Linked DNA regions of Homo sapiens: region 2 is linked to region 1. The links come from fine-mapping of genetic effects on gene expression. A gene starts in region 1. The other region holds a variant in brackets. All regions are shown on one strand. Distances are from middle to middle.

What was found.
Region 2: its variant is fine-mapped to the expression of DEGS2 in whole blood (TOPMed, PIP above 0.99).

Annotation. Positions count from the first base shown.
Region 1 is chr14:100,151,698-100,166,982 of GRCh38, forward strand. It overlaps DEGS2 (delta 4-desaturase, sphingolipid 2), which reads right to left and starts at 7,948. Exons shown (of 3, transcript NM_206918.3): 1 at 7,809-7,948. The coding sequence starts at 7,890. LOC124903380 (a long non-coding RNA gene) reads left to right here and starts at 8,340. Exons shown (of 2, transcript XR_007064330.1): 1 at 8,340-8,434; 2 at 9,611-10,017. RefSeq lists silencers at 7,735-7,794, 7,895-8,294 and enhancers at 14,373-14,874, 14,875-15,285.
Region 2 is chr14:100,173,922-100,186,268 of GRCh38, forward strand. No RefSeq gene overlaps it. Among named protein-coding and RNA genes, the nearest start is that of DEGS2, 20 kb to the left of the region's middle. The variant G/A (reference allele first, on the strand shown) is at 6,559.

The sequences.
Region 1 (15,285 bases):
GCACAGGCTGGGAGTCCCAACCCACTGGGCAGAAAGGCCTCACTGAACACCCCAGCCTCCAGTGGGCCCCCCGGAAGCCCTGTCTTAGGAGTGGGTCTACTCTGCACCCACCCAAGGTCAGTTGACTGACTCCTTGACAGGAGAAAACAACCCACGCTTTTTGCAAAGATTGCAAAGATCTACCATCTTCAGCTCCAGAGCGCCCAGGTCCCTGGGGGAGTGGGAGTGGGGACGTGCCAGGAACACTCGGGACCACGCCATGCAGACTGGATGTGCAGGAGAGGGTCGTGGCTGAGGTCACCCTGGGTACGGTCAGGATGGAGTAGTAACTGAAGCCAGGGCTTGGAGGTGGTCAGCTGCCAGGGGTCACAGAGGTTCAGGGACAAGAAGAGAGAGCAGGTGTCCCTCGACTTAGCCAGGTCATGGTGTCTCAGCAGGAGCCATTCCGGCACAGCCCGAGGCAAGGCGAGGGTGAGATGAGGTAGCGAGGGTGGGTCTGCCTAGGGCATGGGGCAGGGAGGGCAACAGGGAGGCACCAGAGGACGGCAGGATGGGAAGGAGATGCCAGGGTGGGCGTCATGGAGATGCCAGGGTGGGCGTCATGGAGATGCCAGGGTGGGCATCATGGAGAAGGCAAGGGTCACTGGAGCTGGGTGCCAAGGGGACTCAGGAACTCCTCGAGAGCTATGGAGCATTATTTCTGGGTGTCTGTCAAGGTGTTTCCAGACTGGCAGAGGGTAAGTGGACTGAGTGAGGAAGGCCCGCCCACAATGTGGGCCAGCACCATCCAATCAGCTAGGGCCCCGATAGAACAAAAAGGCAGAGACAAGGGTCTCCCTCCTGTCTTTCCCTCCCTCTCTCCTCCCATCCTTCTCTACTTCTCCCACCACTTCCCTCTCTTGGAGCTGCAACACACACTTCTCTAGTCCTTGGATATCAAAACTCCAGCCTTTGGACTCCAGGAACTACACCAGCACCCTCCACCCTCCGCCTGCTTTCAGGCCTTCAATATCATACTGAGGGTTCCACCGTCGAGTTCCCTGGTTCTGAGGCCCTCAGACTCAGACTGAACCACGCTACCCCTACTGCCACCCCTGGGTCTCCAGCTTGCAGACAGTCTGTCATGGGACTTTACAGCCTCCATAATCACATGAGCCAATTCCCCTAATAAATCCCCTCTTCGAATGGATGGATGGATGGATGGAAGGAAAGAAGGAAGGGAGGGAGGGAGGGAAAGGGAAGGAAGGAAGATAGGAAGATAGATCGATATATCGATTGATCCAGGCATGGTGGCTTACATTGTAATCTCAGCACTTTGGGAGGCTGAGGCAGGAGGTTTCCTTGAGCCCAGGAGGTCAGGATCAGCCTGGGCAATATAGCAAGGCCTTATTATGCAAAAAGTTTAAAAATCAGCCAGGTGTGGTGGTGTGTGCCTGTGGTCCCAGCTACTTGGGAGGCTGAGGTGGGAAGATCGCTTGAGCCCAGGAGTTCGGGGCTGCAGTGAGCCGCAATTGCACCACTGCACTCCAGCCTGGGCGACAGTAATGGCAAAAACAGATAGATAGATAGATAGATAGATAGATAGATAGATAGATAGATAGATAGATAATAGATGTGAGAGATAGATACATAGATCCTATCAGTTCTGTCTCTCTGGAGAACACTAATACAGGGCCTCTTCCAGGGCCTCAAAGAAAGGGGGACAGGGAGAATGGGTGGGGCTGGGGAGTGGGAGTCAATGGGTTCCATGGCCTTGGGCCCCATCTTCTCTGGGCCACAAGAGAGGGGGAAAGCCCAAGGCAGAGAAGGACAGGGAGAGACACAGCTCCCTGGCAGCCCCATGAGGAATTGCAGGCCTGCATGGGCTCTGGCTAGACACCCAAACCTGGCCCAGCCTGGGAACTCTGTCCTGCTGTGGGCACTCAGCTGACCTCAGGTGTGACTCTGCCCTTCCACACCTCCAGCCTGGATGGCAGGAGTAGCTGGGAGACACATGTGCCTTGAGGGCTCTCTGCTCCGTGGGGCAGCACAGAGCCCGACGTGCACAGCCACCTGGAACCAAGATACACAGACCCACACAGACGGTTTCCAGCAGCGGCCCCAGGTGAGGCACAAGGCATCTGGGCAGGTGGCCATGAACAACAGCTGTTGCTAGAAGTCACCCTGTCCAGGCAGGACTCAGGAAGGGTCTGAGGTCAAGGGAGGTGCAAAGAAGGGCCCACCAAGGTGCAACAAGGCTGACCGAGCCAAGACTTGAACTCAGGACCCCCGACTCCAGGCCTGCACAATGGTGAGCAAGGCCCCGATGTGGACTCAGACTCCATCAGCACCGATCTAGTGCTTGGCTACACTGCCACAGAGCACCCAGAGAAAATTCTGGATCAGATCTGGGCGCAGTGGCTCACACCTGTAATCCCAGCACTTTGGGAGGCTGAGACGGGCAGATCACTTGAGGTCAGGAGTTCAAAACCAGCCTGGCCAACATGGTGAAACCCCGTCTCTACTAAAAATACAAAAATCAGCTGGACAAGGTGGCGTGCGCCTGTAGTTCCAGCTACTTAGGAGGCTGAGGCAGGAGAATTGCTTGAACCTGGGAGGCAGAGGTTGCAGTGAGCCAAAATCACACCACTGGACTCCAGCCTGGCAACAAAGCGTCTCAAAAAAAAAAAAAAAAAGAAAGAAAAAATCATGGATCAGGCTCAGTCAGACTCCTGTGTGCCCTTGGGCAAGCCCCTGTCCCTCTCTGGACCTGTCTCCTCAGTCTCCATCTGTAAGGCATCTGCTCTGACAGCCTCTGTGGCTGGGAGCCCATGGAGGTGGGGTCTTCCCTAGGGGCCTATGGAGAAGAAGGGGCAGCAGATGCCAAGGTGTGAAACGTCTGCACACTTATACCAGTTAGCAGGCTCACTCATAAAATGCCAGAGGGCAGAGCCAGAGGCAGGGCCTGCTGAAGGGAGGCCAGCCCAAAGCCCCCTGCACCCACAGGACAGTTGCATCACCCTGGTGCGACTCTGATGGGTTACAGCCTTTGCCCAGAAATGCTCCTGACAAATCTGCTGAGCCATTGAGCAGAGGGACCGCATCAGAAACAGGCAGCCAGGCCAGAGAGGCTGCTGTACCCTTGCCTCCAAGAGTAGCAGAGACAGGGCCCCCCCACGCCACACCCCTACTCCCAGTCACAGGCCACTCCACCCCTGCCCCTCCTGACTAGCTGGCAATAAAGTCACTTTTGTCTTGTCCCCAGCAGGGCTCCCAAAAGCAAAGGGGCCTCTTATCTCTTCCACACTGGGCCCCAGTGAGCCCCCAAGCCCTGGCTCTGGCAACATCTAGGGAGACCTGCTGTATCACCTTCCCAGGGAGGCCAAATGCCATCATATGACAGTCACTCACTGGCCACATGGGAGGTGCCCGTCACTGCCCATCATCCCTCCAACATTCCACCTCTGCCGCCACCTGCTTCCCAGCTCCCTGTTCCACCACAAACCTGCTCAGGGTTGACGATGCCACCTGGTGGCCACAGCAGGAAATGCTTCCATACAACGTGGCCTCTTCCCCACCCATCCACAGCTGAGTAACCTGACCTGGGACAAGCTTCTCCTCACAAAGGCAGCAAAGCCCTCCTAATCCCCTCCTTCCTAAACTTCTTCCTCCCAGCCCTGGCCTAATGCTCTGGGAAGCCACCTACCCACAGCTTCCATCCCTGCCACCTGAGGTTTTGTGCCAAGAGACAAGCCTGACCCTGTCCAGTGTGGGAGGCACCCTGGGACCTAGTTGGATCTGGAAAGTGTGGCAAGTGTCCAGCTTCTCACCAGCCGCTCACTAAACCTGCCTTTCATTTCCAGTGACAAATATATACTGAAGATCTGGGAGCAGCCAGGCCCCCGTACGTTACAGAGATGGGTTTACCCTGCAGCCGGGCAGCTCTGTGGCTGGGAGATGGAGCCCCAGGATCCCCTTGTGGCTCTGGCAGTTTGGTCCTGGATTTTACCAGTTACCACTGACAGAGCCTCAGCCCCGGCCTTTCTGAAGCAAATAATCCAGCAACAGCCAGCAGTTTCGCTTCCGGGATTTCCTCTTTTGTTTTTCTTTATTTGAATTTTTGTATTACCATGTGTGCCCTGCTTTCATAATTTAAAAACAAACAAAATTACAAAGCTATTCATTTTCAAAAAAAAAACAAACCCAGAGCTTGCCTCTTACTCCACCGGCCACGCCTGGCTGGGTCTCTGATGGGGCCAGTCTCGCTGGCTCCGGTCCTGCCCTTTCAGGTCAGGGAGCCTCAGCCCTGGCCTAGGAGACCCCACTTTCTTAGGAAGTTATGTTCTAGGGAGCATGTCCCCCTCCCCGGCAGGAGCTGGAGATGGACTTTGGCCCCAACCCACAGAGCTCCTGGAGCCAGCTCTTTGCAAGGACTTCCTGGATTCTGACTGTCAGATTATGATCTTTATTGAACATCCCTGGGCACCCAGGAGCTTGGCATAGGCTGCAGGAGCCAGCTGGGTGGGGCAGGAGGCTGCCTGAGCACCAGCCTGGCCTGTGTGTTCCCCGGCAAGTTGCTTCCCCTCTCTCAGCCTCACTCCTGCCTCTTCTATAAAGAGATGCTGGCAGTTACACAGAGCATTTCTCCAAGGCCTGGGAATAGCATAGGCATGGAGGAAGCAGAGAGTATTCCCTGTCCTTAGGGAAACGACAGCCCTTGCCAGGTCTCTGAGACATTAATCATTATCATCGCAGCTGATACTCATCGAGTCCTGGAATAAGCACTTTACATATCACCTCGTTTAATCTGCACAGCAGCCCCATTAGGAAGGTATGATTTATTAACCCCTTTTCATTTGCCCAGGCCCCAACTCCTTCATCTGTTTACAGACTCACCCGTGGCTAATAAGTGGGTGTCAGGGTCCTTGCCAGGGGTTCAGCTCCACAGCCAAGCTCTTGAACTGTGCCCCAAAGAGCCCAGAGCCCAGAGGGCTTGGAGCCATGGAGGGGAACCCAGAGGAGGGGTCCCCATCCAGCTGGGCCAGGTCTGGGAGCAGTGGAGGGGCTTTCTGCAGGAGGTGGGACTGAACTGAGCGAGCAAGGCTAAGCAAGACAGAGCCTGGCAGAGCAGGGAGGAGGGACATTCACCTGGGGGAACAGCTTGTGCCGGGGAGGGAGGGAATGGCACATTCCAAATTTATTAGCTGAAAACAACAGGTGGAAAGGAAGCCCCTGCTTCCGCCCTGCAGGAAAGGGAGCGTGGACCAAGCTGGAGGGCCCGCCCTGAGGACTTGTGCTCCCCAAGCCCTGGCCCCAGGTGCCTCTCCCTTTTCCAAGTCTTTCAACCTTCCTAGCCACCACCTCCAGAAAGCCTCCTGGATTGGTTCCAGGGCCTGTGGCTTCCCTCTTTAGAGAGAGCTCCTTCCCCACGTCCTGGAGGGCCAGGTACCACCTCGGGCACCTTCCCAGCTGAGATATCATCTCATCCTCACACCTACTCTGCCTGGTAGGACGACTGCCCGTTTTGCAGATTGGGAAAGTGAGGCCACAGCCCAGAGTGTCTGGATCCCTCCAGGTGGCCCTGAGGTAGGCCCAGCTCCTATTCTATGGATATGAGCTCCTAGGGACCAGGACACTGGCTGCCATGTGCCTCTTGCCTTTTCCACATGGTGCCAGATACCCAATGAGTCCTGTGAAGTGAAGCTGGGGATAGCCAGGGGAGGGGACAGAAATGCAAACAGGGCCAAGGAGGCCCCTGCTCCAGCCTCAGCCCCACCTCAGACCTGCTGAGGGGCAGTAGCCAGGACACCTGCCCTGTTCACATGATGAGCAGGGAGGGAGGGTCAGATGACCCCCAAGGTTCCTCCCAGCCCTCCCCAGGAGTTCCACAGCATACGGGAGGCAGCTACCACTGCTGGGACCAGACGATGCTGGGCTGCAGCTCACCTCCCAGGAGAAACCACAGCAGTCACAAACCCACATAGAGGCTTCCAGCTCCTGAGGCCCCAGTTACCCCGGGATGCAGTCACAGGCTAGCCACCCAATGTATCTTGGGTTTCAAACATTTAAAAGTCATGGTATCTCAGTATGCTGCCATGGGATTAAAAAAAGAGGAAGAAAGAAAAAGTTGGCTGGGCGCAGTGGCTCACACCTGTAATCCCAACAGTTTGGGAGGCAGAGGCGGGTGAATCACCTGAGGTCAGGAGTTTGAGACCAGCCTAGCCAACATGGTGAAACCCCATCTCTACTACAAATACAAAATTAGCCGGGTGTGGTGGCGGGTGCCTGTAATCCCAGCTACTCAGAAGGCTGAGGCAGGAGAATCGCTTGAACCTGGGAGGCGGAGGTTGCGGTGAGTGGAGATCGCATCACTGCACTCCGGTCTGGGCGACAGAGCAAGACTTCCTCTCAAAAAAAAAAAAAAAAAAAAAAAAAGTTGTTCAGGCCAGGCGTGGTGGCTCATGGCCCATGCCTGTAGTCCCAACACTTTGGGAGGCTGAGATGGGTGGATCCCTCGAGCTCGGAAGTTTGAGACCAGCCTGGGCAACATGGCAAGACCCTGTTTCTAGTAAAAATACAAAAAAAATAGCCGGGCATAGTGGTACACACCTGCAGTCTCAACTACTCAGGAGGCTGAGGTAGGAGGATCAGTTGAGCCCAGTGGGGAGAGGTTGCAGTGAGCTAAGATCGCGCCTAGCCAACATGGTGAAACTCCATCTCACTACAAATACAAAAATTAGCCGGGTGTGGTGGCAGGTGCCTGTAATCCCAGCTACTCAGAAGGCTGAGGCAGGAGAATCGCTTGAACCTGGGAGGCGGGGGTCGCAGTGAGCCGAGATCGCGAGACTCTGTCTCTAAATAAATAAATTAATTAAATTAAATAAAACGCCCGATTAAAATGTGAAACCTCCATCAAATAAGTGCAAATTAAAGCCACAGTGAAATGGTATTGTTTCCCCAATCTGACTGAAGATTACAAAGTGTGGCAACGCGCGGTGCTGACTTAGGCAGGGCGGGAGGGGCGGGCCTGTCTCAGCCTGTGGCGATTTGGTGGCATCTGGCAAAAGCCACTCTCCAGACGCAGGCCCTTTAACCCCGTAAGCCCGGGCCAAGGACGACTCACCGGGGCCACCTTGCTTGTGGGTGGGATGGGGCCTCTGGCATGAACGAGAGTGACTCCGAGTGGGTAAAGATGCCCTCCTCGCAGAGGACACGAAGCAACAAGGAAAACAGCCACCACGTAATAAGCGACATGCCAGAATAGAAGGATTCTTTAGTACAATCTTTGCTTTTTTCAAAGAAAACACGCGCGCCTCTCATTCGCGTTTGCTCCCTTCCCGGCGCTCATCCGCCCTGAACTCCAGCCTGGGGCGCCCGTGGCCGCGAGACCCAGGGGCTCTGAGCGCAGCAGGCGCCCAGTGACTGCGGGTGGAGGCCCCGCGTCGCGCAAGCTGCCTCCGCGCCAGGGAGCGCGTGCGCCTCGTAGCGCGTCCCGGGGCCGCCCCTGCGCCCTCGCGTCCCAGCATCCCAGAGCCCCGGCCCTGGCCCCGGGAGTGGCTCGCGAGGAACAGCTGGGACGCGCTCCCTGGCGCTCGGACCCGTACTGGGGTCCTCGGAATCCTCAGGTCCCAGGGAGTTTCAGACCCGGCCAGGGTGGGGGACCCTCGGGGAGCCGGCCGGGGACCCCAGGGAGGGGAGCGGCAATGGCGGAACGCCCACTGGAATTTGGGCCAGAGCTGGAGCGGCCCGTCTGGGCTCGACCCCACGACGCGACTCCAGACGGGCCAACGGGGCGGTCCCCACCGGGGTGGGCCCCGCGCGGCGCTCACCCAGTATCTCCTTGCGCCGCTGCGTGTGCGGCTGGTCGGTGTAGACCCACTCGAAGTCGCTGCGGCTCGCGCTGTTGCCCATGGTGGGGCGGGAGGCGCCGTTCGGAGCGCGGCCGGCTCGGCTCTGCTGCACCTGTCGCGGCGGCCGCGGCGCGGAACCAGCTCTGATTAGGGCGGGGGCGGGGTCCCGGCGGGGCGGGGCCAGGTGCGCCAGGCTTGGGGCGGGGCACCTCTGGCTGGGCGGGGCGGCCGGGCCCCGGCGCTCTCCAGACCCCGGCGGGTAGCTGGCGCTTTGGGAACCTCAGTTGCCTCGGTTGGAAATGGGGCTCCCCGGCAGGACCGAGGTGGCCGCGTGCCATCTGCGCGAGTCCCTGGGTCCCTCGATGCGCGGGGGCGACTGCTGCCACCGCGGCCTCCCACCGGCTCTGCGCGCCCCGCCCACCCGCGGGCAGCCGTCGGGTTTTTACCCCGGCCCGTTCTCTCCGCAGCCCCGACCCGCTCGCGGGCACGCCCCTGTGGCTCGCGCCGCCCCTGCCCCAAGGAGGAGCGGCTGGCAGGATAGGGGGACTGCGGAGGATCGGCGTGGAATGGATGCGACGGTGCCAGTAAACAGGCGCCGAGGAAAGGTTGGTGCAGCAATCCTCCCTTCCTCCACCCGGCCCTTTCACCAATAATGCAAAGGGGAGATAATGCGTCTGCAGCAACCTCACAGGGATGAGTCAGACCCACTCCTGCCTTCAGGGAACTTGAGTTCTGGATGGGGACACAGGTACAGAAGTGGCTGTTATGATTCAGGGTGATACGTGCCATGACACAGGTAGGCCCTGAAGCAGCTAGGATCCAATAGAAGGAACTTTTGCATTGGGCCTTGAGGGGTGGGTAGGAGTTCAACAGCTAGAAAAGGGAAAGGCATTGGTGCTAGGGGGAACAGCAGATGCAAACGCTTGGAAACAAGGCAGAACCTGAATGTTCTCAAATGGAAAGTCTAGTTTTGGGGAGGTAAGGGCACAGGGCCCCTCATCTTCACCCTCTCAGTGATGCCTCTGTTCCTTCTCCCACTCCCTTGGAGTTTTGGAGGGTGGACCTGCTGTGCCTGTGGGCCAGAGCCTGGCCTCGGCTGGCAGTTGCCTGGGAGCTGACTGACACATCAGCCAGCGCTGCCACAGGCTCGCACATAGTGAGGGCGTGCTTCTGTGCGTCCCATGGAAGTCCATGGCCCGGGGTTTGGTACACTTGGCAGGCCTTCCTTAGCTCAGGGCCAAAGGCAGTCCTGAGTGAGCCAGGAAGGAAGGCATGGGTGTCCTGCAGCCGCCAGCCACCATCCCCTGAATTAGCCATGGGAAAGGTGGACACAGAGGCCAGATTTTCCATCAGCAGGGGGACCCACATGCCACCATGGCCATCACCCCTTGCCACACCCAGGAGGCCTCCCGGCCCAGCTTGCACCCTTGGGAGAAGACTCATTGCTCCCAGGGCAGCCTGCTCTGTTCCCAGCCAGAAGGGTCCTCAGAAGTCATCCCACCAGCCATCACTTTACAGATCAGGAGACTGAGGCCCAGAGATGAGGAGCGCCTTGCCTGAGGCACAGAGGAATTAACAGCAAGGCTGGGGCATGACTTTGGCCCCTGACCTTTGAATTAAAAAGCTTCCAAAATCAGAGCCTTCGCCCCTGTGTTGAACTCCGTGAGATCTGCCGCCCTGAGCCCCAGCTCCACCCTCAGGACAACACCAAGCCTGCCAGTTCCCTCTGCCCCAGGCCACCGCCTATCCAGAGGAAACTCACCAAGGCCCTCATTTTCCAGATGAGGAAACTGAGGCCAGAGAGGGGACAAGTCAGAGGACATGCTGAAGAAGACCTGGGAGTGGAACAGACACCCAGGATGCATGAAATCAAGTCTGATGCCCTTGCCAAGTGCTCCCCAAGTCCCTGGGGAGCCAGAAACCCAGCTTCACGGTGTTGACGAGCCAGGAGCACATACTGTTGCGTCCCCACCCTGTCCGTTGTCCCAGAAATGACAGAAAATACATTTTCGTTTGTAATGTGGTGTCTTGAATGGGATCCTGGAGCAGAAAAAGGACATTAGGTAAAGCTAAGGAAAGCCTAGTAAAGCTGGACCATAGTTAATCATAGTGTATCAATATTGGTCCATCAAAGGCAACAAATGCACCATATTATAAGATATTAAAATAAAGGAAACTGGGTGTGGCATATATGTGAACTTTCTAAACTATCATCACAGTTTTTCTGTAAATATAAAGCTGTTCTGAAAAATAAAGTTTATGGCCGGGCATGGTGGCTCACGCCTGTAATCCCAGCACTTTGGGAGGCTGAGGTAGGCAGATCACCTGAGCTCAGGAGTTCGAGACCAGTCTGGCCAACATAGTGAAATCCCGTCTCTACTAAAAATACAAAAATTAGCTGGGCGTGGTGGCAGGCACCTGTAATCGAGGCAGGAGAATTGCTTGAACCTGGGAGGCAGAGGTTGCAGTGAGCTGAGATTGCACCATTGCACTCCAGCCTGGGCGACAGAGCGAGACTGCATCTCAAAAAATATAAATAGGCCGGGCACGGTGGCTCACACCTGTAATCCCAGCACTTTGGGAGGCCGAGGCAGGTGGATCACGAGGTCAGGAGATCGAGACTATCCTGGCTAACACAGTGAAACCCCGTCTCTACTAAAAATACAAAAAAAATTAGCTGGGCATGGTGGCGGGCACCTGTAGTCCCAGCTACTCGGGAGGCTGAGGCAGAATGGCATGAACCCGGGAGGCGGAGCTTGCAGTGAGCCGAGTTTGCGCCACTGCACTCCAGAGCCTGGGCAACAGAGCAAGACTCCGTCTCAAAAATAAATAAATAAAAATAAATAAAATAAATAAATAAATAATAAAATAAAATGAAGTTTATTAGGCCAGGTGCAGTGGCTCACACCTGTAATCCCAGCACTTTGGGAAGTCGAGGCAGGCAGATCACCAGGCTGGTCTTGAACTCCTGGACTCAAGGAATCCACCCACCTTGGCCTCCCAAAGTGCTGGGATCACAGGCATGAGCCACCGCGCTCAGCCAAAATATAGTTTCTTTTAAATATAAAGTTTGGGAGTGTACACACACACACGCGCACACAGCATTGGAAAGCAGGGACTCTTTGGACTGGAAACTGAGAGGGAGCCCACCACGGCCAGCTACTCTTCAGTGGCCCCTTGGCCTCCCTCCACACCCCCATTTCCCCTGGGCCAGGCAGCAGCAGGGGTGGGGTGCTGGTTACCTCTCAAGAGGGCCCTGATTGTAAGCCCCCTGGCCGGAGTGCTGTGCCAGGAGCAGGATGGGCCTCCACCCAAAAGCCTCAATGACAGTATTAGCTGCCCCATGCAAAAAGGCCTCCACTGCCTCGTGTTTGCAGAAAACAGGCCAGAAGACATTTCACACTGCCCCTCCCACACCTCCCAGGAGCCAGCAAGGAGTCAGACAGCCCATGACCCAGAGACAGCACACGTCGGAGGAAAGCCACAGAATGAAAGGGCAACCGACCCAAGAAGGAGCAGAGCCTGACAAACAGATGTTGAGGAAAGCAGACTCGATGGAGGAGTGAGAGCAGTGCCCCCAAGACTGAGCTAGAGATAGACATTTAAAAAGTGCTCATTTAAAAACCACACCCGAGCCGGGCGAGGTGGCTCACGCCTGTAATCCCAGCACTTTGGGATGCCGAGGCGGGTGGATTATCTGAGGTCAGGACTTGAAACCAGCCTGGCCAACATGATGAAACCCTGTCTCTACTAAAAATACAAAAATTAGCCAGGCGTGGTGGCACACGCCTGTAAATCCCAGCTAGTTGGGAGGCCGAGGCAGGAGAATCGCTTGAATCCAGGAGGCAGAGGTTGCGGTGAGCTGAGATTTCGCTACTGCACTCCAGCCTGGGAGACAAGAGCCGAACTCCATCTCAAAAAATAAAATAAAAATAAAAAAATAAAAACCACACCCCTCTATTGAAACGGAGCCCGTGGAGGAATCGAGACATGAGGACAGTTTCAGGATCCAAGCGGCCTCATAGCCAGACTGCTAGGAAAGGATGGAGAAGAGGCAACACTGGTCCCTACCCAGCCTTGTTTCCTTCATAGAAGTCATCCCACTGAAATTGTAATTACAATTTAATTATATGTAATTAGGGGTTATCCCTACAGGAAGTAAATTATTATAGCAGGTACTTATTTACTTGTTTATTTTATTATTACTTTTTAAAGATAGGATCTCACTCTGTCATCCAGGTGAAGTGCAGTGGTGCAGTCTCAGCTCACTGCAACCTCTGCCTCCCGGGCTCAGGTGATCCTCCTACCTCAGCCTCCTGAGTAGCTGGGACTATAGGTGCGCCCACCACACCCAGCTTATTTTTGTTCTTTTGGGGTTTTTTTTGCAGAGACCGGGTTTTGTGGCCCGGCGAGGTGGCTCATGCCCGCCCATAATCCCAACACTTTGGAAGGCTGAGGTAGGCAGATTAACTTAAGCCCCGGAGTTTGAGACCAGCCGGGACAACATGGCAAAACCCTGTCTCCACAAAAAATACAAAAATTAGCCAGGTGTGGTGGCTCGCGCCTGTGGTCCCAGGCGCGATGTAGGAGGATGGCTTGAGCCTCCATGTTCCCCAGGCTGGTCTGGAACTCCTGGGCTCAAGCACTCTTCCTGCCTCGGCCTCCCAAAGTGCTGGGATTCCAGGGGTGAGCCCCCGCGCCCAGCCGTCCTTGTCTATCGTAACAGGGCCTCCTCTAGAATGCCCTGTTCTCTGGGGATCACCCCTGGTATCACCAATGCCTAGAACATTTTCTGGCAAAGGAGTTGCTGTTAATAATGATTTGCTGGGCTGGGCGTGGTGACTCACCCCTGTGATCCTAGCACATTGGGAGGCCGAGGCGGGTGGATTGCTTGAGGCCAGGAGTTCAAAACCAGCCTGGCCAACATGCTGCAACCCCGTCTCTACTAAAAATACAAAAAATTAGCTGGGCATGGTGGCGGGCACCTGTAATCCCAGCTACTCAGGAGGCTGAGGCAGGAGAATCACTTGTACCAGGGAGGCAGGGGTTGCAGTGAGCCAAGATCGTGCCACTGCACTCCAGCCTGGGCAACAAGAGCGAAACTCCGTCTCAAAAACTAATAATAATAATAGTAATAATAAAACAGTGATTTGCTGAATGAATGACAGAAGGAAGGCATGAGTCTTCAGACCGAAAGGCTTAAGGGTGCCAACAACATTAAAATTTGGCTTAATCACTTTGGAAAACTCTTCAGTAATATCTATGAAAGCTGCGCATGCCAGGGTCTATACCCAGGAGTAGTGAACATGTGTGGCCACCAAATACATGTGCGAGAATAGTCCTGGCAGCTTTATTAGTAAAAGCCAAAGCTGGAGGTAACTCCAATGTCCAACAACAACAAAAAACGAAGAATGGATAAGCCGCTTATGCTATCTCCTTACACTGCAATGGTGGGTGGTAATAAAAAATGAATTACTGCCACCCACAGAACATTTTTATTTTCTGTGTCTGATGCTTTTATTTTCTGTGTCCTGGGGCCTAGCTGACCCTAGAGAGGCTGCCCCTCCTAGGACTAGAGATTCCTTCTCAGATGCCAGTGACCACCTCACAGCCCACAGCCCACTACCTCCTCTGTCTCTCACACTCAGGGCCAATATTCCCCTGCCCTGATCACACCAGGGCCAGGTATCAGACAACTCCGGACAGCCCCTCTGTCCCAGAGCCCTGAAATTACTCAAACCAGCCAGTCCAAAGCCTGCTCACCCTGCCTTGACTGTTTCTTCCCACAGAAACCCCAATAAAGGCTCTTGCTCACGTTTCCCTCTCCTCCCCCTGACTTCAGCAGACCCCAGCGTTCGCCCGTGTGTCCCCGACCCGCGCCGTGTGGCGCAGCCCCTGCTCTTGAGAACTGTGAGTGACAAACCATCTTTTCAACGGCAACATCCCCTGATTTGTGGGCCTCACTACACCTGCCTGCATTTCAAGCAGTGGGCGCAGCTAGCAGGGTGGAGTGAGGCGCCACTGCGCTGCTCTCGGTAACTGGTTCCACCGGGCGGCCGCGGACGGGCGGTGCCCCCGCCTGCGCCGCCTGGTGCTGCTGCTGTGGACGCCTCTCCGCTCCGAACTCAGGACCTGGGTCCTCTGAGCTCTGATCTGAGCTGTGCCTGCCTCCTTCCGGGCTGGCTGGCCAGGTTCCCCAAGGCTCCTCCAAAGGGAGCCACGGGAGGGACTTCCTCCTAGTGTTTGGGGGTGCCCCGCAGGCGGCCCTGCTAAGTGGGGGCAAACAGAGCTGCTGTTTGGGGGGCTTTTCAGGCTGCCTGGGGGAATTGGGGGAGACTGCATCAAAGAGTAGGGGGAGGCTGCGGGGCGAAGGAGGCCCCCTGAAGTGGGGTGGGGGGAGCCTGCCCGGAGAGTCAGGGGAGCCTGCCTGGGAGAGTGGGGGGAGCCTGTCTGGGGGAGTAGGGGGAGCCTGCCCGGGAGAGTGGGGGGAGCCTGTCTGGGGGAGTGGGGGGAGCCTGCCCGGGAGAGTGGGGGGAGCCTGTCTGGGGGAGTTGGGGGAGCCTGCCCGGGAGAGTGGGGGTAGCCTGCCCGGGAGGGTCGGGGGAGCCTGTCTCGGGGAGTGGGGGGAGCCTGTCTGGGGGAGTGGGGGGAGCCTGTCTGGGGCAGTCGGGGTAACCTCTCTGGGGGAGTGGGGGAAGCCCATCCAGGAGAGTGGGGGGAGCCTGTCCGGGGGAGTGGGGGGAGCCTGTCTGGGGGAGTGGGGGGAGCCTGCCCGGGGCTGTGGGGGAGCCTGCCCGGGGCTGTGGGGGAGCCTGCCCGGGGCTGTGGGGGGAGCCTGCCCGGGGCTGTGGGGGAGGCTGCTCTTCACTCTCAGGAGCTCAGTGTGAGGACCCCCGCCCCCACAGGGACCTAGTGGGCAGGAGGCGCCCTACCCTCAGGACCAGGGGCACAATGTTTCATAGAAGAACAGAGCACTCTATCCCTGCCCTTCCTGAGACCCCGGAGGAGGTCGCCAGTGGATTCGGGAGCATGAAATGCTCCGGTGATGCCGCGTGGGTCTCCCTGAGCACGAGCTTACCAGGGGGCCGCGCTCAAAGCAGCCTCAAAAATACCGACAGGGTCATTCTCCCGCAGCGGCTGCAGAGCCCTCGGAGGTCGGGTAAGACGCCACCTAAAGACAGGGCCATGAGGGGTCAGCAGGACTTTATCTGATAAACACCGGAAAGACAGAATGGGGAACAGAAATCAAAAGGAAAAATGTTACCCACCTCGAGATCCAAGCCATTCTAACAGGCTTTGCTTAAAAAAGAAGGAAGTCCGGGCGCCGTGGCTCACGCCTGTAATCCCAGCACTTTGAGATGCCGAGGCGGGAGGGCGGATCACGAGGTCAGGAGATCAAGACCATCCTGGCTAACACGGTGAAAACCCCGTCTCTACTAAAAATACAAAAAATTAG
Region 2 (12,347 bases), 21 kb after region 1:
CTCAGGAGGCTGAAGCAGGAGAATCATTTGAACCCAGGAGGCGGAGGTTGCAGTGAGCTGAGATTGCACCACTGCACTCCAGCCTGGCGAGAGAGCAAGACTCTGTGTCCAAAAAAAAAAAAAAGAAGAAAGAAAGAGAACTGAGCACAACTTGAAACAATAACAGCAAAACCCAAAGTTACCATCTAGAAACATTGTAGAGAAATTTTTGAGTAAGGAGATGAAAACAAAAATCCCAAAGCCATAGAGCACGGTGGCTCATGCCTGCAATCCCAGCGCTTTGGGAGGCTGAGGTGGGAGGATCACTTGAGCTCAGGAGTTTGAGACCAACCTGGACAACATGGAGAAACCCTGTCTCTACAAAAAATAAAATAAAATAAAATAGTTGGCCTGGTGGCTCATGCCTATAGTCCCAGCTACTTGGGAGGCCAAGGTGGGAGGATCACCTGAGCCTGGGAGGCCAAGGCTTCAGTGAGTCGTGATCGTGCCACTGCACTCCAGCCTGGGCAACAGAGTGAGATCCTGTCTCAAAAAAAGAAAACGAGGGAGGGAAGGAAGGAAGGGAGGGAGGGAGGGAGGGAGGGAGGGAAAGGAAATCCCTAGAGCTTCCAAGAAGAAACAGAAATAAACTGCCTGCAGATGAATAAGTGAGACTGTCCACAGACTTCTCAGTGAAGCTGTGCACAGAAAGGCCATGCCGCAGCCTCGTGCATGTCCACCCCACTGCGGCCTCTCCTGTCTCCCACTATAGCCCACTATAGCCTGCCCCCGTAAGGCATGGCCCAGACCAGCCCTCCGTGCCTGCACGGCTGCATCTGGCTAGTCCACCTGAATGCACTCCTCCAACCCTGACTCCACGCTGGTCTCCACTCCCTCCCTGTATCCCCAGGCCTCTCATCCTGCATGCCTGCCCCAACTCTTTCCAAACCCTCATGTCAAGACCAAGTGCCACCTGCTCTGAGAGGCCTCCCTGATTTGTCAGCCTGAACTGATGACTTGTCCTTCTTTCCCCCTCTCCCCAACTCTGCTCACTACCTCGGTGGTCTTGTCTAATTCTCTGTCTTTCCTTTTTGGCCCAAGGGGCAGCACAGCCCCTGGACACAGACCCAGCTGAGATGGCATCTCAGCCTCTTACCCGCCAGCTGAGCTTGGGCAAATCACTTCGCCTCTGTGCCTCAGTCTCTTCCCCTGTAAAGTGGAGATAGCTACCCTACTTCCTGGAGTTCTCAGGAGCAGGAGCCTGTGTGTCAAACACCCACAGCCTTGCCTGGCACACAGTGGGCCCTCAGGCCACAGCAGTTGTCATCTGGGAGAACCAGGTGTCGGGGGCCATGGGCTGCTGGGTGATTTCCACAGGGTTGCTGGGAGCCTCCCTCTTGGGGCCCTCAGCCTTATGCCATCCCCTGAGCACTCTTGTCGCTATTTCATTTATGACACCTCGTTGATTAGGTCACTTTCAAACATGTGTCTTAAGGATAAAATAAAAACTGGTGGGTGGGGCTGAGGGGGTGCGGAATCCCAATTGCAGACCACACACAAACACACCCAAGCAGGTGCAGGCATTCGGAGCAGGGGACGTGGTGCCAGCCCCACAGGCAAGAGCCAACACCAAGGCAGAACCGGGCTCTACTCTGAATTGTGCCACCTTCATCCCTGGGCCGACAAATACAGTGCTTCCCGTGCCGTCAGCTGGGAGCCCAGGCCACCACATTTCAGCGCTTTACAGTGGAGGGCAAAGGGACTCCTCAGGAGTGGAGGTGCGCTCTGGCCCTGGCACATCTGGCTCGGGCGCTCCATGGGATATCCACGTCCCAAACCACAGCTCTGAAATACTCTTGGTTTCCCCAGCCAGGTCCCCAGCCCAGGCCCAAGAAAGACTGAGCATGGCAGCCAGGCACAGAGGCAGCCGGGCTTCTGGCCCCACCAGCATACAGAGACGCATTCTGAAGCTCGGATAGTGCGTGAGGTGTGAGGCTGCCTCTGCTGCCGGTGCCACCCAGTGGGAACCCCCTCCATGCCGGTGCAGCCCATGGACACAGGATGCTGGGGATGAAATGCTGACAGACAGGCAGGAGCCCACTCAGCTCCCCCCACTGACCTAAGGATCCTCCAAGGGGCTATTTCCGGTTGAATGTGATTGCATTTTCAGTGGATAATCAATGTTTGTTGTGGACACAAATCTGGAGAGCCCCAAAGACCTCAAACATGTCCCTCAAGAATGTCAAGGACGCAAAAGATAAATGCTTGAACTGGCTGGGCGCGATGGCTCACGTCTGTAATCCCAGCACTCTGGGAGGCTGAGGCAGGTGGATCACTCTGAGGTCAGAAACTCGAGACCAGTCTGGCCAACACGGTGAAAACGTTTCTCTACTAAAAATACAAAAATGAGCTGGGCGTGGTGGCGCACGCCTGTGATCCCAGCTGCTCAGGAGGCTGAGGCAGGAGAATCACCTGAACCCAGGAGATGGAGGCTTCAGTGAGCAGAGATCGCACCATTGCACTCCAGCCCGGGCAACAAAAAAAGACTCCATCTCAAAAAAAAAAAAAAAAAAAAAAAAAACTTGACCTGTTGGGTACCCTGATGTGGTTATTATGCATTGCATGCCTGTATCAAGATATCTCATGTAATCTCATGTACACCGTAAATATATACACCTAGTATGTACCCACAAAAATTAAATTTTTAAAAAATGGCAAGGAGGGCCAGGTAGGGTGGCTCAGGCCTGTAATCCTAGCAATTTGGGAGGCTATCGCTTGAGCTCAGGGGTTCAAGGCCAGCCTAGCAGCCTGAGCAACACAGCAAGACCCAGTCTCTGCAAAACACAAAACAAGAAGAAGAAAGTCAAGTCTGTCCCCAGTTCAGCGGCTCACGTCTGACTTCTCTCCTTGGCCTCATGCCCAGGGCACCTTCCTGAATCCCAGAGGTGAGCAAAACTCCACCTCCACAACCCCAGGGCACCCCATTGCCACCACCCCTCAGCCTTGGAAATGGAGTCACCAGGCATGAAGTTTAGATGTGCACAACCTGGCACCGAGTCCCTACGGTGGGACCATGCCCGCAGCGGCAGTGTGGAAGATGGGACAGACACAGCGAAATGCCTCCAGGGCGTGGTGGGAGGGGCCGGAACAGGGAGATGGCGCGTGAGTAGCATCTGTTCTTACAGCAAAACCTGTAAAAGTAAAATATACGTAGGTTTGTCACTAAAGACGTGTCTGCATAAATACACCCACGCCGAAGACTGTTCTGATCACCTTTTTATATAATTACCGTGTGTCCTTGTGGCTGTGTGGGTGGCTGTGTGTGTCTGTGCAAAGGTGTGCCTGTGTGCATCTGTCTGTCTGCAGAGGTATCTGTGTGTGTTTGTGTGTGAGTGGAGGTTCTGGAGAAGGCCTGGAAGGATCCTGTCAAACTGGAGGGGGGCTGCGGGATGAGGATTTTTCTTTTAATGCATCTGCCCAGTTTGAGTTTTACGAATGTTAATCATTTAAAGGCAGAAAAGATATCTTTGGGGGTTTTGGGTTTTTGTTTTTTGTTTGGGTACAGGGTCTTGCTCTGTTGCCCAGGCTGGATTGCAGTGGTGTGATCATAGCTCACTATAGCCTTCTAAGCCCTGGGTTCAAGTAATCCTCCCTCCTCAGCATTCCCAGTAGCTAGGAATACAGGCATGTGCCACCACGCCCAGCTAATTAAAAAAAATATATATATCTCTTTTTTCTTTTTTAGGGATGGGGTCTCGGGGTCTTGCTGTGTTGCCCAGGCTGGTCTCAAACTCCTGGGCTCAAGGGATCCTCCCAACTTAGCCTCCCAAAGTGCTGGGATTACAGGTGTGAGCCACCGGGCCGGTATAAAAAGATATCTAATTAAATTTTTTTGAATTAGTGGACTCCTCCCAGGCTCGTCCTCCTTCGCCACCCATTCCCAGCGCATTGCCCCCCGCCAGCCAGGTCCCCAGGCCTCCCAATCCTGCACTGTCCGCGGCGGCGGGGGTGGGGAGAGGAGGGTGCTTTGCACTCGCGGTTCCCCCCCCGGGAGCATTGATACCCCCGCCCCTGGGAGCATTGATCCTCCTGCCCCTGCAGCCCGGAGCCCGGAGCAGCCCACGTTGCTCCCGCTGCGGCCCAGCCCAGCCCAGCCCAGCCCAGCCCAGCCCAGTGCCGCGCCTGTCCTCGAACCTGGCCCAACGCTCGCCGGGAGCAGGGACCTGCGTGCAGCTATGGAACCGAGGCGCGGGCTGCGGGATCCCGCCCTACCTCCCATAAACCAGGGCCCGAGATAAGGGAGTCCCAGAGGGCCAGGGGAGTCGCGGGCCCAGCGTCTCAGTGGGCACGAATTTCTTACTTTAACCTCTTTTCTGTCGACCCCATCTGTCCCCACCTGGGAGGAGGGGGAGCAACAGGCCCCTTCCCGGTCGAGTTCAGGGCTCGGTACAAAGGCTGCATGATGCCACAGAGGGTGAATGGCCTGGTGCCAAGGCTGGGAGTGCCCAGACAGAAGGGCCACAGGGCATCCAAGAAGTGTGAGTTCAGGCCTTGAGGGCCTTGAAGGACGGAGAGAGTTCCTGACCAGGGAGAGGAGAGATTCTCAGCTGCAGGCACGGCTGGGACACAGGCCTGGTGGTGGGAAGGAGCAAGGGCCACTGTGGCTGGGGAAGGGGAGTGGAGCAGGGCTCAGAGGCTTAGTGCCCTGGGGAGCCTGGGAGTGTTGAGGTCTGGGAGGGCCTCAGGGAGTTGGGACGTGGGGTGGGGAGGATGTGGATGAGGTGTCCGCACAAGGGAGAGCCTTTTAAGCGGAATCCTCCTTGGGTCACTGGCCTGGTCCCAGCTCTGAAGAGGCTGGGGCAGGACAAAGAGCAAGGGTGTGTGGGGGTGAGGCCTTGAAAGAGACAAGTGAACAAATCCATCACTGGCTGAGCCAAGCCTCTCGAAGGTCCCACCAGGGAAACTGAGGTTGGGCCCCTGGAGAGTGGGGTGCAGGAATGGTCTGCTCCAGGAGGTGAGAACAGAGCGCATGACTAATGCCACCAGGACTACTCACGGCACTGACTTCATCGCCCAGCTTGCGGACATAGGGGCCTGGCTCAATTCGCCCAACCTGCCTTTCTGGCCCTGACCCATAGCCTTCAAACCCCACTCCTGACTCACTGTACCCCACCTCCCTCCCACAGGGAAAAACATACTGAGTGCCTAGGCCCGGCGCTGCTGTGGGGAGACCAGTGTGGAGTCACACAGGGTGGAGGGGAGGACCTAGAGCTGGGGTCCTGCTCCTGCCTGGCGCTGGGACCCAGCTTAGACGTGGCCTCTCCTAAATCCCCTCTTCAGCTCAGGCAGCCTGGTCCCTGGTCCTTGACCACATTCACGCTGCAGGATTTCATTTATATAAAGTACAAAACAAAGGTAAAATTAATCTATGGTGGTAAAAGTCTAAATAGTAGTTGCCTTTGGAGGCTTCTGGGAGCTGGAAATTTGCTGTAATGCAATCTGGATGGAGCCGTAGGTGGACATAGAGAAAAATCATCTGGTTGCTCACTTAAGGTTTTGCACGTTACTATAAATACACAAATAAATGAATATAATAACACCACACTGTTACTAATCATAGTTCCCCCATGTTCAAGCCCCTTCGTGAAGGTAGGCCAGACATTTCTGATGCTGTGTCCCCAGCGCACAGCCCAGGGCAGCCGTCTATCCTCACAGTGGTGAACAACTATCAATATCCCCATTTTATGACGACGGAAATTGCAGTTCAGGGGAACCAAGGAACCAACGTCTTGTCTGACTCCAAAACTCTTCCCAGAAAGCTCTGTGGCTGTTCTAGCTCTGTCCAGGGACGTTCATGTCTTGGAGAGGAAGCAAAGACAAGAGTCAGAGGATGCAGGGAAGCCAGGGTTTCTAGGAGTGGCACCATGGCTAGTTACCATCGTCAGGCTGTGATAGGGCCTTGGGAGGAGGGACGGGTGCTCTCCAGAAGGAAGTGATGTCAGTCTGAGTCTTAGAGAATGGATGAGGTCTAGAGCTGCAAAAACTGGACAGTGAGCCAGGCGCGGTGGCTCATGCTTGTAATCCTAGCACTTTGGGAGGCCGAGGCAGGTGGATCACCTGAGGTCAGGAGTTCGAGACCAGCCTTACCAACATGGCAAAACCCTGTCTCTACTAAAAATACAAAAATTAGCTGGGCATGGTGGTGCATGCCTGTAATCCCATCTACTCGGGAGGCTGAAGCAGGAGAATCGCTTGAACCTGGGAAATGGAGGTTGCAGCGAGCCGAGATCACGCCACTGCACTCCGGCCTGGACGACAGAGCGAGACTCCATCTCAAAAAACAAAAACGAAAACAAAAAACAATCCCTCTCCCTCTCCCTCTCTGTCTCCCCACAGTCTCCCTCTCCCTCTCTTGCCACGGTCTCCCTCTGATGCGGAGCCAAAGCTGGACTGTACTGCTGCCATCTCGGCTCACTGCAACCTCCCTGCCTCATTCTCCTGCCTCAGCCTGCGGAGTGCCTGCGATTGCAGGCGCGCGCCGCCACGCCTGACTGGTTTTCGTATTTTTTTGGTGGAGAC[G/A]GGGTTTCGCTGTGTTGGCCGGGCTGGTCTCCAGCTCCTAACCGCGAGTGATCCGCCAGCCTCGGCCTCCCGAGGTGCCGGGATGGCAGACGGAGTTGCGTTCACTCAGTGCTCAATGGTGCCCAGGCTGGAGTGCAGTGGCATGATCTCGGCTCACTACAACCTCCACCTCCTAGCTGCCTGCCTTGGCCCCCCAAAGTGCCGAGATTGCAGCTTCTGCCCGGCCGCCACCCCGTCTGGGAAGTGAGGAGCGTCTCTGCCTGGCCGCCCATCGTCTGGGATGTGAGGAGCCCCTCTGTCTGGCTGCCCAGTCTGGAAAGTGAGGAGCGTCTCTGCCCGGCCGCCATCCCATCTAGGAAGTGAGGAGCGTCTCTGCCCGGCCGCCCCGTCTGGGATGTGAGGAGACCCTCTGCCTGGCAACCGCCCGTCTGAGAAGTGAGAAGCCCCTCCGCCCGGCAGCCACACCGTCTGAGAAGTGAGGAGCCCCTCCGCCTGGCCAGCCGCCCGTCCGGGAGGGAGGTGGGGGGGTCAGCCCCCCGCCCGGCCAGCCGCCCCGTCCGGGAGGTGAGGGGCGCCTCTGCCTGGCCGCCCCTACTGGGAAGTGAGGAGCCCCTCTGCCTGGCCAGCCGCCCCGTCCGGGAGGGAGGTGGGGGGGGTCAGCCCCCCGCCCGGCCAGCCGCCCCGTCCGGGAGGGAGGTGGGGGGGTCAGCCCCCCGCCCGGCCAGCCGCCCCATCCGGGAGGTGAGGGGCGCCTCTGCCCAGCCGCCCCTACTGGGAAGTGAGGAGCCCCTCTGCCCGGCCAGCCGCCCCGTCCGGGAGGGAGGCGGGGGGGGTCAGCCCCCCGCCCAGCCAGCCGCCCCATCCGGGAGGTGAGGGGCGCCTCTGCCCGGCCTCCCCTACTAGGAAGTGAGGAGCCCCTCTGCCCGGCCACCACCCCGTCTGGGAGGTGTACCCAACAGCTCATTGAGAACGGGCCAGGATGACAATGGCGGCTTTGTGGAATAGAAAGGCGGGAAAGGTGGGGAAAAGATTGAGAAATCGGATGGTTGCCGTGTCTGTGTAGAAAGAGGTAGACATGGGAGACTTCTCATTTTGTTCTGTACTAAGAAAAATTCTTCTGCCTTGGGATCCTGTTGATCTGTGACCTTACCCCCAACCCTGTGCTCTCTGAAACATGTGCTGTGTCCACTCAGGGTTGAATGGATTAAGGGTGGTGCAAGATGTGCTTTGTTAAACAGATGCTTGAAGGCAGCATGCTCGTTAAGAGTCATCGCCACTCCCTAATCTCAAGTACCCAGGGACACAAACACTGCGGAAGGCCGCAGGGTCCTCTGCCTAGGAAAACCAGAGACCTTTGTTCACTTGTTTATCTGCTGACCTTCCCTCCACTATTGTCCTGTGACCCTGCCAAATCCCCCTCTGCGAGAAACACCCAAGAATGATCAATTAAAAAAAAGAAAAGAAAACAAAAAACAAAACAAACAAACAAAAACTGGACAGTGGATGGTATCCCAGGTTGAAGAAACAGCAGAAACAAAGACTGGGAGGGAGTACTGTACAAGTTGTGGTCTGGATAGTTGGGCTGGAGCAGAGGATGCTGGAGGAGGCTCAGCAGGGCAGGTATGACCGTCACAGCCACTGGCTGGCACTAGCCAATGCAGGGTTCTTCTGGGAACTCTGGGGTCCTGAAACTAAGGCAGCTGAGGAACTTCCAGAATGCTTTAATAAATTAATATCAAACATGATTTGCTTTTGAGCTAACGTCAGCCGTGCCAAGATTCACAAAAGAGGCTGGAGAAAGGAGATTCTGGCAGGGCAGATCTGATGTCATCCACTAAGCATGGAGCCTTGTGCTATCTGGAATCTGGGATGACACAGCCTGAGCCTCCCCACCCAGGTGGCTCCCACTGAGATACCCACACTGTGATCATTGCCAAGGACACCAGACACTTCAAGCAACCCAAGGGAAGGAGGGCAGAACTCTGCTGGGTGGCCAGGGCAGTCCAGGCAGGCACATAGGGTCCAGAGGGAAGAAAATCAAGATGTCCTCCAATTCCATCCTAGATATTGTAACTGAACCTAGGTTTGATTGCTCAACCCTCAAAAGCCAGACACAAGAGATGAGGGTTGGTGGGAGGAAAAGCAGGCTTATTCAGAGAGCCGGCAAAACTGAGATGGGGAACTCGTGCTCTAACGTACCATCTTAAGGCCTGGGGTGGTGGCTCATGCCTGTAATCCCAGCACTTTAGGAGGCTGAAGTGGGTGGATCACTTGAAGTCAGGAGTTCAAGACCAGCCTGGCCAACATGGTGAAACCCCGTCTTTACTAAGAATACAAAAATTAGCCAGGCATGGTTGGGCGTGGTGGCTCATGCCTGTAATCCCAGAACTTTGGGAGGCCGAGGCAGGTGGATCACCTGAGGTCAGGAGTTACAGACCAGCCTGGCCAACATGGTGAAACCCTTTCTCTACTAAAAATACAAAAATTAGGTGGGGCGCGGTGGCTCACACCTGTAATCCCAGCACTTTGGGAGGCCAAGGTGGGCGGATCACCTGAGGTCAGCCTGACCAACATGGCGAAATCCTGGCTCTACTAAAAATACAAAATTAGCTGGGCGTGGTGGTGGGTGCCAGTAATCACAGTTACTTGGGAGGCTGAGGCAAGAGAATCGCTTGAACCTGGGAGGTAGAGGTTGTAGTGAGCCGAGATGGCACCACTGTACTCCAGCCTGAGCGACAGAGTGAGACTCTATCTCAAAAATATAAATAAATAAAAAATAAAGTCCCATCTTCAGTATTTCAGGCTGGTCAGAGGCTTTTTGTGGGAGGGGGGATATGGGGAAACCATGTGCAGGGCTTGGGATCAAGAGGTGACCGAGGACCACAGACATCTAGGAGCCAGCGAGGGTCTGAAGAGGTTGGGAACTTCTTTGTCCTTAGTCAAGGGTCATGATGCTCCTATAAATCCTTAACAAAACGTAGTTCCTGGCTTACCTACTTCCCCTCTAATCCCAGAGTTAGTTTTACGAACTACATGATTGCTGTTTGTGCATTTTATCTCAGTGCTGTAAATTATCCCGGCTTACAAACGGGAATGGGTAAAGGCCCCTTGAAAAAAAAAAAAAAGGACTGGGCATGGTGGCTCACACCTGTAATCCCAGCACTTTGGGAGGCTGAGGCAGGCAGATCACTTGAGGTCAGGAGTTTAAGACCAGCCTGGCCAACCAACATGGTAAAACCCCATCTCTACTAAAAATACAAAAATTGCCCAGTCGCGGTGGCATGAGCCTGTAATCCTAGCTACTTGGGAGGCTGAGACAGGAGAATCACTTGAACATGGGAGATGGAGGTTGCAGTGAGCTGAGATCGTGCCACTCCACTCCAGCCTGGGCGACAGAGCAAGACTCCATCTCAAAAACAAAACAAAACAACAACAACAACAAAAAATAGAGTTAGTTGTGTCCGTTCTTTTCCACTGTTACAGTATGACCACTGGTGAACCTCTGCAGAGATTGTTTGAGGGACAGAGTTTCATTTTCATTGAAAAAGTTGTTCAGGGCCTGGCTCGGTGGCTCACGCCTGTAATCCCAGTGCTTTGGGAGGCCGAGGCGGGCAGATCATGATGTCAAGAGATTGAGACCATCCTGGTCAACAAGGTGAAGACCTGTCTTTACTAAAAATACAAAAATTAGCTGGGCATGGTGCCACATGCCTGTAGTCCCAGCTACTCGGGAGACTGAGGCAGGAGAATCGCTTGAACCTGGGAGGCGGAGGTTGCGGTGAGTGGAGATCGCATCACTGCACTCCAGCCTGGGTGACAGAGCGAGACTTCATCTCAAAAAAAAAAAAAAAAGTTGTTCAGGCCAGGCGTGGTGGCTCATGGCCCATGCCTGTAGTCCCAACACTTTGGGAGGCTGAGATGGGTGGATCCCTCGAGCTCAGATGTTTGAGACCAGCCTGGGCAACATGGCAAGACCCTGTCTCTAGTAAAAATACAAAAAAATAGCTGGGCATAGTGGTACACACCTGTACTCAGGAGGCTGAGGCAGGAGGATCAGTTGAGCCCAGGGGGCAGAGGTTGCAGTGAGCTGAGATCATGCCACTGCACTCCAGCCTGGATGATAGAACGAAATCCTGTGTCCAAAAAAAAAGAGATGATCTAGTAACTAGGACCACAGGCATGTGCTACCACACCCAGCTAATTTTTTATTTTTATTTTTATTTTTTATTTTTTGAGACGGAGTTTCACTCTTTCACCCAGGCTGGAGTGAAGTGGCGTGATCTCGGCTCATTGCAACCTCCGCCCTGCCTGGTTCAAGCGATTCTCCTGCCTCAGCCTCCTGAGTAGCTGGGATTATAGGCACTTGCCACCACGCCTGGCTAATTTTTGTATTTTCTGTAGAGATGGGGTTTCATCATGTTGGCCAGGCTGGTCTTGAACTCCTGACCTCAGGGGATCCACCTGCCTTGGCCTCTCAAAGTGCTAGGATTACAGACATGAGCCACCACGCCCAGCCTCACAGCCAGCTAATTTTTTTAAAATTATTTGTAGAGATGGAGTCTCACTATGTTGCCCAGGCTGGTCTCAAACTCCTAGGATTAAGCAATCCTCCTGCCTCCGCCTCCCAATGTGCTGGGGGTACAGGCGTGAGCCACCATGCCTGGATCATCAGTGGATCATCTTAAAATCAATGACATTTTACACACAAGTGTGACCGGAAAGGGGTCTGATCCAGACCCCAAGAGACAGTTCTTGGATCTCATGCAAGAAGGAATTCGGGCAAGCCCACAGAGTCAAATGAAAGCAAGTTTCTTAAAAAAGTAAAGGAATAGGCCAGGCGCGGTGGCTCATGCCTGTAATCCCAGCATTTTGGGAAGCTGAGGAGGGAGAATAAAAGAATGACTACTCCACAGGCAGAGCAGTGGCACGGGCTGCTCTACTGAGCATACTTATGGTTATTTCTTGATTAGATGCTAAACAAAGGGTGGATTCTTCATGAGTTTTCCAGGAGAGGGGCAGGCAATTCCTAGAACTGAGGGTTCTTTCACTTTTTAAACCATATCAGGTAATTTCTGGGCATTACCATGGCATCTGTAAACTGTCATGGCACTGGTTGGAGTGTCTTTTAGCATGCTAATCCTAATGCTAATGTATTGTAGTTATTGTATAATGAGCAGTGAGGATGACCAGGTCACTTTCGTCACCATCTTGGTCTTCGTGGGTTTTTGCTGGCTTCTTTATTGCATCCTGGTTTATTTATTTATTTATTTATTTTTATTTATTTATTTATTTATTTTGAGATGGAGTCTTGCTCTGTCGCCCAGGCTGGAGTGCAGTGGTGCGATCTCAGCTCACTGCAAGCTCCGCCCCCCGGGTTCACACATTCTCCTGCCTCAGCCTCTCGAGTAGCTGGGACTACAGGTGTCCGCCGCCATACCCGTCTAATTTTTTGTATTTTTAGTAGAGACGGGGTTTCACTGTGTTAGCCAGGATGGTCTTGATCTCCTGACCTCGTGATCCGCCCACCTCAGCCTCCCAAAGTGCTGGGATTACAGGTGTGAGCCACCGCGCCTGGCCTGCATCCTGTTTTATCAGCTGGGCCTTTGTGACCTGTCTCTCTTGTGACCTCTTATCTCTCACCCTGTGACTTAGAATGCCTAACCTCCTGGGATGAGGCCAGCAGGTGTCAGTCTCATTTTACCCATTTCCTATTCAAGATGGAATCACTCTGGTTCAAACACCTCTGACACAAGGATATATGATAGATATCTATATATATATATATTATA